3 linked regions of the Homo sapiens genome follow. The protein of the gene in region 2 purifies or fractionates together with the protein of the main gene of each other region. This does not show direct contact. Each region holds a gene or a part of one and is shown on either strand. Other genes may lie near its edges. The genes, in order: HSF2, DNM3 and SLC26A6.

Evidence for each region.
Region 1: the proteins of DNM3 (region 2) and HSF2 purify together in Homo sapiens (affinity purification with a luminescence readout; one large-scale study listed by IntAct). This does not show direct contact.
Region 3: the proteins of DNM3 (region 2) and SLC26A6 fractionate together in Homo sapiens (co-fractionation; one large-scale study listed by BioGRID). This does not show direct contact.

Annotation. Positions count from the first base shown.
Region 1 is NC_000006.12:122,430,613-122,433,733, reverse strand, and holds the end of HSF2 (heat shock factor protein 2), read right to left. Parts: intron 2,305-3,121; coding exon 2,220-2,304; intron 1,810-2,219; coding exon 1,514-1,809; 3' UTR 615-1,513; downstream 1-614. UniProt on the Homo sapiens protein: DNA-binding protein that specifically binds heat shock promoter elements (HSE) and activates transcription. In higher eukaryotes, HSF is unable to bind to the HSE unless the cells are heat shocked.
Region 2 is NC_000001.11:172,386,981-172,390,633, forward strand, and holds part of DNM3 (dynamin-3), read left to right. Parts: intron 1-152; coding exon 153-379; intron 380-1,592; coding exon 1,593-1,829; intron 1,830-3,653. UniProt on the Homo sapiens protein: Microtubule-associated force-producing protein involved in producing microtubule bundles and able to bind and hydrolyze GTP. Most probably involved in vesicular trafficking processes, in particular endocytosis.
Region 3 is NC_000003.12:48,628,871-48,632,523, forward strand, and holds part of SLC26A6 (solute carrier family 26 member 6), read right to left. Parts: intron 3,527-3,653; coding exon 3,375-3,526; intron 3,223-3,374; coding exon of another isoform or gene 3,175-3,222; coding exon 3,010-3,174; intron 2,932-3,009; coding exon 2,779-2,931; intron 2,437-2,778; coding exon 2,354-2,436; intron 2,271-2,353; coding exon 2,123-2,270; intron 1,851-2,122; coding exon 1,737-1,850; intron 1,646-1,736; coding exon 1,568-1,645; intron 1,288-1,567; coding exon 1,192-1,287; intron 1,109-1,191; coding exon 1,002-1,108; intron 842-1,001; coding exon 772-841; intron 1-771. UniProt on the Homo sapiens protein: Apical membrane anion-exchanger with wide epithelial distribution that plays a role as a component of the pH buffering system for maintaining acid-base homeostasis.

The sequences.
Region 1 (3,121 bases), on a different chromosome or scaffold from region 2:
GAAAGGAATGAAGAAAAGTCTTTTAAGGTTTTCTCCTCTCAGTTTCTAAACTCTTATCACCCTTAGAAACATAACCTCTTCAGCTCACGCAGAGCACTGTTGTAGGGTCTTGAATTAATTCACCAAGATCCCACCATCAGAGCCAAGTATTTTAGGATCTAACTAAAACTCTCCTAAGGGAATTTTCCTATTCTTCTGTGCTAGCCCTTACTTTGAATCTTTACATCATAATAAAAGAAATTCTAAGACACTGACAGAATATGGCCAATAGGAAAACCTGCCTTGAAACTCATTAAATAGCCCTATACAATATTAATTGTACTGCTTTCAGCCCTTTGCCCAAAGGTGAAATTCTTCACATGATAAAGTGCCCTGGCCTTGCATTAAGTCTCCATAATTCTCTTGGGCAACTGTTTCAAAGGAAAGAGGTGATTTGACTATTTCTCTTATCTTCTCTCCAGACATCCAGTGATAATATTCTTACACTATTTGGGACAATGAGAGGCATAATTCTCTCACTTTTTTATTAGAAACATAGAAAGCAACCCAGTATAATTTTTAAACAAAGAACTTTAAAATACATTAAATTTAGAGATTATATTTCTCCCTTGTTGCAATATACAATATATTTTCGAGATGAGGCACAAATATCTTGGTATGATTCATATTGAGAATAATGAACCACAGACAGTTTAAAGCTACTGCTTCCTATGAGAAGAAAAAATTGTTTCATGTGAGTGTCACCTCTAAAGAAGACACATAACAGACACTAGTACTCAACATTCATTGTATTTATTTTACTAAACAGTATGGTTCAAAAAAACACAAACCGGAAAACCTTTATTTAAAACTAGTCCAACTAACTGGATGGGGCTCACTCCATCCCATCCCACCCCCGATCTTTCTATATATATGGAGCTGGAACCCTATCAGACAGCGAGCATTCACGTACACTTTGTCTTTCCTGTTGAACATGAATAAACGTCTTTGAACATAAATGAACTTCTCTGAACCAAAAGAAACAAATGAAGTTTTACAAGATACAGGCACTTTATGTTCCCAGTTTTAAAAATAAGCCAAGTGAAAAATATTTAATAAAAATAACTGGAGCAGAGAAAGCTTTAGGAGTTATACCATTAGTTCAAATGACTTACACTCAATGCAAATAGACAGCATCAAACAGGAAAACAAACAAAAATTTAACTGAGGTTAATGGTCGTATTTGTAAAAAAAAGATATCCAATTTACCAAAATTGGAGAAAAATGGCCATTTGAATCCAACTTAAAGATACGCCAATAATGTGCATTACATCTGCGTAACTATGCAGCTGAGTAACACCTGAAAGCTCTGCAAGAGTGTGTGGTTAGTGAGAAAAGCAAAAGGTGCTTTTATTCCACAGTATCTGATTAAACAAAACAAAGCAATTTACAAAAAAAGTACCAAATGATACTTTAAAATAAATAGTTCATCATTTTGATGAATATATACATGTAAAGTCCACTTCCTGGGGATTTAGCTATCTAAAAGTGGCATATCACTATCCAGAGGTGCAGGAGCAAGTTCACATAAATAAAACAGTGTAGCTTCACTAGCTTCAGCTTCAGTCAATGGCTCCAGGCGAACAAGCTTACTTTGGGTTGGTTCTGGGTCTAGGCTGCTATCCAGAAGCTCATCAACTTCTATGGGTTTATCTACAGAGGACAAAACTTCTGATGATGCTGTTGTACTCGCCTGTTCAACAGAAGAAGCAGGGTTCCCATCGAGGAATGCAAGAAGTGGAAAGGCGGTATACTGGATAAGCTGCTTATCTATAAAGATCAGAAAAACACTCTTTTATCACCAGCTTATACTGAGTTCAAGCTGAGGGGAAAAAAATGAAAACAGAGATGTACACATAGGCAATTACTACTCTCATATAGCCAAACAAGAAATGACATGATGCACTATGTCAATAAATTTTAAAATGTGCAAGTCAATAGCTCTTATTCAACAATTAAGAAATGAGGGGTCTTTAGTTTCCTAAAGTTAAATAGGATAAAAAAAAAAAACTTAAAGAATTGTTACCTCACCAATTCAACTTTCTCTATATACTAGAACCTCGACACACTATTCACAGAACTAAAGCCAGCATATTCAATTAAGACTACCCTCGGCTTGCACTTGTTTCTGCATAGGATTAAAAAAACCTACAGAGACTGAATACTATATTTATACCTACCTGGTTTGGATTTAGATTTTCTTCCCTCTTCCGAAACTGGCTGAACTACATTGTTCTTGGTAGTTTCTAATCCTTTATTCTCAGACTAAAAGAAAAAAATATATATATAAGTACTTGTTTCATATTTTATGTTTCTGAAAAAAATGAAAAATTGATACAATATGTAAATACTGGTATATTATCTGAAATATATGAGATGGGGAAACATCAGGGAAAATGGGCTACAGAGAGAGATCTGAGTAGAGATAACAAGACTGGTTAAGGAACTATTGCTGTCACTGAGGGGATAAAACAAAGAACCTGAATTAAGATGTTCTATATTAAGTATGAAATGAAGGGGGATTTCAGCAGCAGAACAGATAGAATTTGTCACGAGTAAAAGATCAGAATGAATCAAAGATGACTGGTTTCAAAATGTTAATTGAGAGATAATTAACTAAGCAATTAAATTCATTTTAAGTAGTTTTGATTTAAAAAATGTATTATACATTTCACTCATAAACAGAATATTTAGCATAAGTGAACATATTTAGAGTAGCTCAGGATGACATAATGACATCCTTAAAACTCTTTATCACTATTTAGAAGCCTCAAAGTTGAGGTGGTGTTTCTTCTTGTCCTTTCTGTAGCTCTGTCAGTTCTTTTCTGTCATTTAAATTGCTTCTTTGAACCACTTTCTTCTCTCCTCACATCTGACTGTGGTAGGGAAATTATATCTTTACCATTGTTAATTTCTTCAGTGCTCCTTTCATGTTCAAACTCTGAGGTGCAGAGGTTCTTAATTTTTCCTGTAAGTCCCAGACATCTGCAAGTCCCAGATCTACATGCTGGCTAAATATATATGGTGTAACCAACTGTAAACTAATTCCAGTAATTCCCCTGATATTTAACATAAAATGAAG
Region 2 (3,653 bases):
GTAAACAGACGCTTGGTGCTTCACTTTTCCCAGGGTGGACTTTGGTGGACTTTGGTGGACTTTGTCCAGACTCTGACTGCCACAGCCATGTTTCTACCTCCACTCAGTCACTCATTTATTCCCATTTTTATTTCTCTGTGGTGATCTGACAGGTTAAAGATTTCATAAATTCCGAGCTCCTAGCACAGTTGTATTCTTCAGAGGACCAAAATACCCTGATGGAGGAATCTGCTGAGCAGGCTCAGCGCCGGGATGAGATGCTTCGAATGTATCAAGCACTGAAAGAAGCCCTTGGGATAATTGGGGACATCAGCACAGCCACCGTGTCCACTCCGGCACCCCCTCCAGTGGATGACTCCTGGATACAGCACTCTCGCAGGTAAGAAGATGGCCCCGGCCGGGTGCGGTGGCTCGCTCCTGTAATCCCAGCACTTTGAGAGGCCGAGGCGGGCGGATCACGAGGTCAGGAGATCGAGACCATCCTGGCGAACATAGTGAAACCCTGTCTCTACTAAAAACATAAAAAAAATTAGCCGGGCGTGGTGGCGGGTGCCTGTAGTCCCAGCTACTCGGGAGGCTGAGGCAGGAGAATGGTGTGAACCCGGGAGGCAGAGCTTGCAGTGAGCCGAGATCGTGCACTGCACTCCAGCCTGGGTGACAGAGCAAGACTCCGTCTCAAAAAAAAAAAAGAAGATGGACCCACCCACAACCCCTGAGCCCTGCCACGCTTGTCCAATATCATTTTCTGAGAGTGCTTTCCTAAACCAAGATGGACCTACAGAAAAAGGGGAAAAGATATTTACATTCAGGAGTAAGGATCAGATTATACTAACTCCCTTAAAAATGCAGCACAGTGCATCCTCACAATGGAATGTTATATAGTCACTAAAAAGAACAAGACAGTTCTATTAAGTCCTAAAATGAAAAGATAATCCAGTTAACGGGAAGCTTTAAAAAAAAGGGAGGTTGTATGCCAGGCGCGGTGGCTCACGCCTGTATTCCCAGCACTTTGGGAGGCCGAGGCAAGCGGATCACCTAAGGTCAGGAGTTTGAGACCAGGCTGGCCAACATAGTGAAACCCTGTCCCTACTAAAAATACAAAAATTAGCTGGGGGTGGTGGCGCACACCTGTGATCCCAGCTACTCGGGAGGCTGAGGCAGGAGAATCGCTTGAATTCAGGAGTCAGAGGTTGCAGTGAGCCGAGATCACGCCACTGCACTCCAGCCTGGGTGACAGAGCGAGACTCCGCCTCAAAGAAAAAAAAAAGGAGGTTGTAGAAGACTGTGTTCTATGGTATACAGAAAAGCAATTTATATATAGAGAGAGAAAATATATACTTATACAAATGTAGAATACAGTTAAAAAGGATGCACAAGAAACTTCTATAGTTGTTTCAACAGAGTGAAGGGGTAGGGAGAGGAAAACTTACTTTTCTCCATTTACCCTTTTATCCCTTTGACTTTCATGACATGAATTGGACTTATTCAGTCAAAAAATAATTTTTAAAAAGCAGGAAGTTACAAAACATTTTTAGAGATTAATTCAGACAGAAAGGAGGAGTGAGCAAACTATGATTTCTCTTTTTCCTCAGGTCACCTCCTCCAAGCCCCACAACCCAAAGGAGGCCAACACTAAGTGCTCCCCTCGCAAGGCCCACATCCGGCCGAGGACCAGCTCCTGCCATTCCCTCTCCTGGCCCCCACTCTGGGGCTCCTCCAGTCCCATTCCGTCCAGGCCCATTACCTCCTTTCCCCAGCAGCAGTGACTCCTTCGGAGCCCCTCCACAAGTTCCATCTAGGCCTACGAGGGCCCCGCCCAGTGTCCCAAGGTAAGGCATGGAGCAGAAATTGGGGGGGTAGTGCGCCTTGGTTCTCTTCTCATAGAATGACAGACAAAATTTATTTGAAAGAGAAAATTGCAAAGATCTTATCGTACGTGTTTGCAGTTTTCACAATGAACAGAGACTATAGGAAAATTGCCAACCCTGTTATGCCATTTAAAAATCACTTGTGATCATTGAAATTTCTCATTTATCAATTGGCACAGACTAAATAGGACTAAAGAACACTCCGTCCCAATGAATGACATTTTGGCAGCTATTGGGAGAATTTGAGGGCTTTGAAACAAAAGAGCTATGGAGGATTGTAGCAAGCTGTGTGTTCTATAGGTCATGAGAGTTCCATGGACTAAAGTCTTGCCTTCTCCATTATCAAAAGAATTCTTGAAAACCACTGACTTAGAGAATTTTATCCATCTGCCTTCTGAACTGTGATCCTTATACTCAATTTTACCAATTTTCATATAGGCTGAATAAATCTGGCTGATTGATCTGCAATTGTTTTTTTAAAAACTACACATAGAAATTTTAATATAGGCATGATTGTTGTATACAGTCACTAATCATATATAAGATAGATCATTGTACATCTGAATAATACGTGTTGACAATTATAAGTGGATTTTCAGGCTTAATTGTGAAACAATATAGCTAATAAATAATGGACCTAGAAACACACATAGTTGGAGCTGTAGTCTCACCTTCATATACTTACAGTCAAAATATACACAATGAATAGAATCAGAGATTTTTAAGGTATAAAGTACTAAGGTTTTTTTCCCCCTCAAAATCAGAAATATAAAGAGGAAAGAAAATTAGCCCATATATAAAGTTAATTTTTAAAAAATTCAATTCAGAGAATTAAAATATTTATATACTCCATGAAGGAATATCTGACTGTATATGAACCATAAAAACAGATGTGACTTCTACCCATCCCTGAAGCCTGAGCCACCTTGCCAACTGATTATGGCACTTACGTTTTATTTTAATCTTCAAGTTGTTAAGCGTAATGAAGAGAAGAGAAGAAGGGGGATCTTAAGCTAGTACACAGAGGGTGGTACAGCAAGAATAGGCAGGAGATTTGCAGTCAGAAGACCTGGGTTACTGAAGGTCTTGGGCAACTCATTTAACTCTGAGACGGGAGTTCTTTATCTATGAAACAGGGAGAACTCAATAAGGTTGTTCCCCAGATCATATGACATGAGGTATTTGAAAGAGTTTGATACACTGTAAAGACTACAGTTGTTACCACTGTTATCATTTTGGTCCTAAGCAAAGAGGATATATACACACTCTCAATCCAATTTTTTTTCTCTAAATTCAATAGACTTGGCTTATAAATTATTTGGAATGGTGCTAAATTTCTAGTAATAGCAGTACTAGCAATAGCCAACATTTATTGTGCCCTCAATATTACTAGGCATTGCCCTAAGAACTTTGTATATACATTTTTGTTTAAAGCTCACAACAAATAGGTTGTTATCCACATTTTACAGATGAGGCAGTGAGGTTAAACAGCTTGCCCAAGGCTGCTCAGCCAGTCCCTAGTGGAGCTGGACTTTAATCCCATGCAGTCTGCTTCCAAAGCCATTTCCTGACCATGACCCCAGGGTTTTTCAGCCTCATCAGTACTGACGTTTTTGTTGTGGAGGGCTGTCCTGTGTATTGTAAGATGTTTAGCAGCATCCCTCCCCTCTACCCTCTAGATTTCAGTTGCAGTCCCCAGTTGTGACCACTAAAAATATCTGTAGACACTCCCAATGTCCCTTAGGGGAGTAAAATTCCTCTCCACGTGAGAACCACTGCACTGTA
Region 3 (3,653 bases), on a different chromosome or scaffold from region 2:
AAGCCCGACGGTGTCATCCCCATCCCCCCACAGTGCCTCTCCCTCCCCACCTCTCCTGCCACCACCCAGGCAGGCTTCACAGGCTCTTAACCTTTCTCTTGGGTTTCCAACCCCTGCCTTGTGTTCTGTTTTCTGCACCCAGACAGAGGTCCTCCTAGGCTGTCATATCAATCAGACCTTCCCCGCTCCCACCCCATTCGGGTCACAGCCCGGGTCTCTGCTGGGCTCCAGGCATGCATGGTAAGGGCTGGGCTGCCCCCTCATCCTCTCCCATGTCTCAGACCCCTTAATTCCTCCCCGCACTGCCTAATTGCACTGTGCCCATGTTGCAGGCAACAGCCTTGTTTTATTCCAGAGCCCCCCACCTATGTTCCTAGCACTTGGCCCAAGACCTCTCAGGAGATAAATGGATGACTGAGGACTTAGTAACCCCACTGATCAGATCAGGAAATGCCTCCCTTCCAACCTGGCGCCCCAGGGAGCTGCCATTCCGGCTCTCTGACCCACGGCTGCTCTGCAGGTGGAGCTTGTGCTGTTGACTCCACGACAGACCCCTCCCCAGCCCCAGACCCATCTCTGTCCACTCTCCCTCTGTCCCTTCATACCTCTAGAGGGGGTCATAGACCTAAACTCCTCCCTTGAAATCCCAAAGACCAAAGCCAAAGTATCCTCAGCCCCCAGTTCCCTGGCCAAGTGTGGAACGAATCCACAAAGGCTCATTCTTCCTCCGTCTCCCCATCCACACCATCTCACTCAGCCCCTGACACTCACCTCTGAGTACTCTGCCACATCTCTGTAAATATCCGTGTCTGGCACCTGCCCCAGGACAGAGTAGTGGGGCCTGTGAAGGAGAGAGAGAATGCACGAAGAGGGGGCAGAAAAAGGGGATAACAGAGGGGTCCGAAGGAGCCTGAAGTCCCCAGAGATGTGGGGAAAGCTGCGGGGAGCCCTGTGGTACTCTCTCACTAGCTGGAATGAGGGGACCAACATGGCGGACTCACATCTGTGTCCGGACCACCACGAGCAGCAGGGAGAAGATGACCGCAACCACCAAGCCAAGGTCCAGGTTCAGCAAGATGGTGGCCGTGAAGGTCACCAGCCAGATAAGCTGAGAACAGAGGGCAGCGGTTGGAGGGCGGCGAGGAGCCATGGGGCTGCCCAGTCCCTGCCCTGGGCTCCCAGTGCACTCACCAGATCCGCCCGATTGGCCTTCCAGAGGGAGCGCATGTCGCTGAGCTGCCTCAGCATGCCCTTCAGGTTCACAATGATGATGGCTGCCAGGACCGCCTGGGGTGGGGACAGTGCCACCAGGGGCCATTGAGGGCACCCGATGCTGACAACCCTCCTCACCGAGGCAAAGCCAGACTAAGCCCAAGCACTCAGGCAGTACCCCAGACACAAACCCCCACCCAGCCCCTGACCCTTGTCTCCAAATCTCACCTTGAAGATCTCAGCCTTGAAAAACAGAACCTAACCTTGTGTCCCCACCCCTCGCCTGAACCTAGACTGGCTGATTTGAGAGCCCTGGCCTGGCCAAGACCTGAAACCTGGCTGGGTGGGGGCTCACCTTGGGCAGGTCATGGAAGAGTTCCCCAAGTTTGACAATGATGAGGAGGATGAAAAGGGAAGAGATGGCTCCAGCAACCTGTTCGGGGAGGGAGTGAGCAGGGGAGAGACCTCCTTCCCCAGGCAAAGCAATGTGCATGCCCACACCCATGCCCACACCCAAAGCCCACCTGCGAGTTGCCCCCGGTGCTCTCCTGTACCAGGCTCCGAGACATAGAGCAACTCACGGGGAAGCACTGGAAGATGCCTCCGATAAGGTTACTGAGGCCCAGGGCCACCAGCTCCTGACGGGGGACAGTACGGGTGTGAGAAGACTTCCTAGAAGTGGCTGGTCACTGTTCCACTGTATCTAGGCCTGTGCATCCCCAATCTCCATCCCCACCAAGTGGCCCCCAGAGACTGGATGCTGTCCCACACGTCCTGCTCTCCCACCCTCAGTCCCCCACGTGGCCTCAGCACATCTGCTGTCTCCCTGTGTCCCACCGGTTCCTCCCCCACCCGTTGCTGGCGCCTCCATACACTTGGATGCCTCCTACACATCCCGCATCACCCAGACCTGGTTGCTGTCCACCCGGTAGCCGTGCCTCAGGGCGAAGATCTTCCCCAGTGAGATGGCAATGGCAAACCCAACCACAGCGATGGTGAAGGCGCTGCCCACGAGCTTTGAGAACAGCTGGGTGTTGGGGGCCACTGGGGGCACCAGCCTGTGAGAGGTATCTGTGAGGCCAAAGCAAGGTCCTGTCCTGGCTGCCCAACCCTCCCTGACCTGATGGAGGCCAGAGCTCACCCTGCAGGGATGTTGCCCACGACATCTACCTCAAATCTGTGCTTTAGACCCATGCCATAGGAGATGCCTGTGGCCCCGATGAGCTGTGGGAGAGGACAGAGTCAGGGAGGCAGGTGCTGGCACCATGGTCAGGGGGACACATAAACCACTGTGAGGTGAGGAGGGAGATACTGGGCAAAACCTTCTTCGAGGGTGGGAAAAAGTCACGTAGGGTGAGAGACAGGCAACACCATTTCGGCTATGGGGAGATGCTGTCAGGGGCAGGAAGAAACCAACATAGGGGCTTTCTGCTGTGCCCCCCACAATACCCAAGAACCCTCCCAGCCCCCCTCCAGCTGGCCCTCAAATACAGGAGGCTGCCCACGTGGCAAGGACCCAGCCTGACCTGCCCTTCTCCCCTGCCCTCCACTCCCTGGCCCTCGAACCGTGAGCAGCTCCCCGGGTATCGGCATGGGCAGCTGCTGCTGCAGCTTGTCATTCAACAGCTTCACCACCACGAGCACCACCCCAGCCACAGCTGCAGTGACCACGGTGCCAACCTTGCTCTGGGGCAGCTTCCAGCAGACCTCCAGCACTGTCTGAGGAGAGGCCAGGTCACAGCTAGCACTCAAGGCCATGGGGCACACCTACCCCTCCCTCCCCCTACCCTCACTCACATAGATGAGGGACAGTGGCCCAGAGTGGCTGCTCAGATGGAGGCCAAACACATACTTGAGCTGTGAGACGAAGACCTGCACAGCTGCAGCTGTGGTATAGCCTCGGACAAGAGGTTCTGACAGGTAGGTGACCACGAAGCCGAAGTGGATCAGGCCCAGCCCCACCTGTGGGGCGGCCAGGGGCAGTCAGGAGAGGCAGGGGTCCTGGGGTTGCTAATGAGGAGCGCAGGGCAAGTGGGATGGGAGGGGGATGAGTAGACGGCAAGAGGAGGACGACGATGGTCAGACACTCAGGGGAGTACAGACAGGACAGTGGCGGGAGCAGAAGTGGTGGTGGGGGGCACATACTCCTGACTGTTCCACACCTGGAAGAGGCCAACCAGGACACTGAGTGTGGAGGCCACCTGTACCCGGGCAGCATCTCTGGCTGTCTCATTGATCATGGAGTCGTTCAAGGCCTGCGGGGCCAGGGATTCTGTCACACTGCCCACCATCACAGACATGACAGCAAAGGTCCCTGTAAGGACGGCACGGGGCAGGTCTGAAGAGGAGAGGACACTGCCCTGCCCTGGAGCCCTGGTCTTAAGAGAGAGGCCAGGAGACTTCCAGTTCTGGATAAATGTACTCAGATTATGGCTGCATGA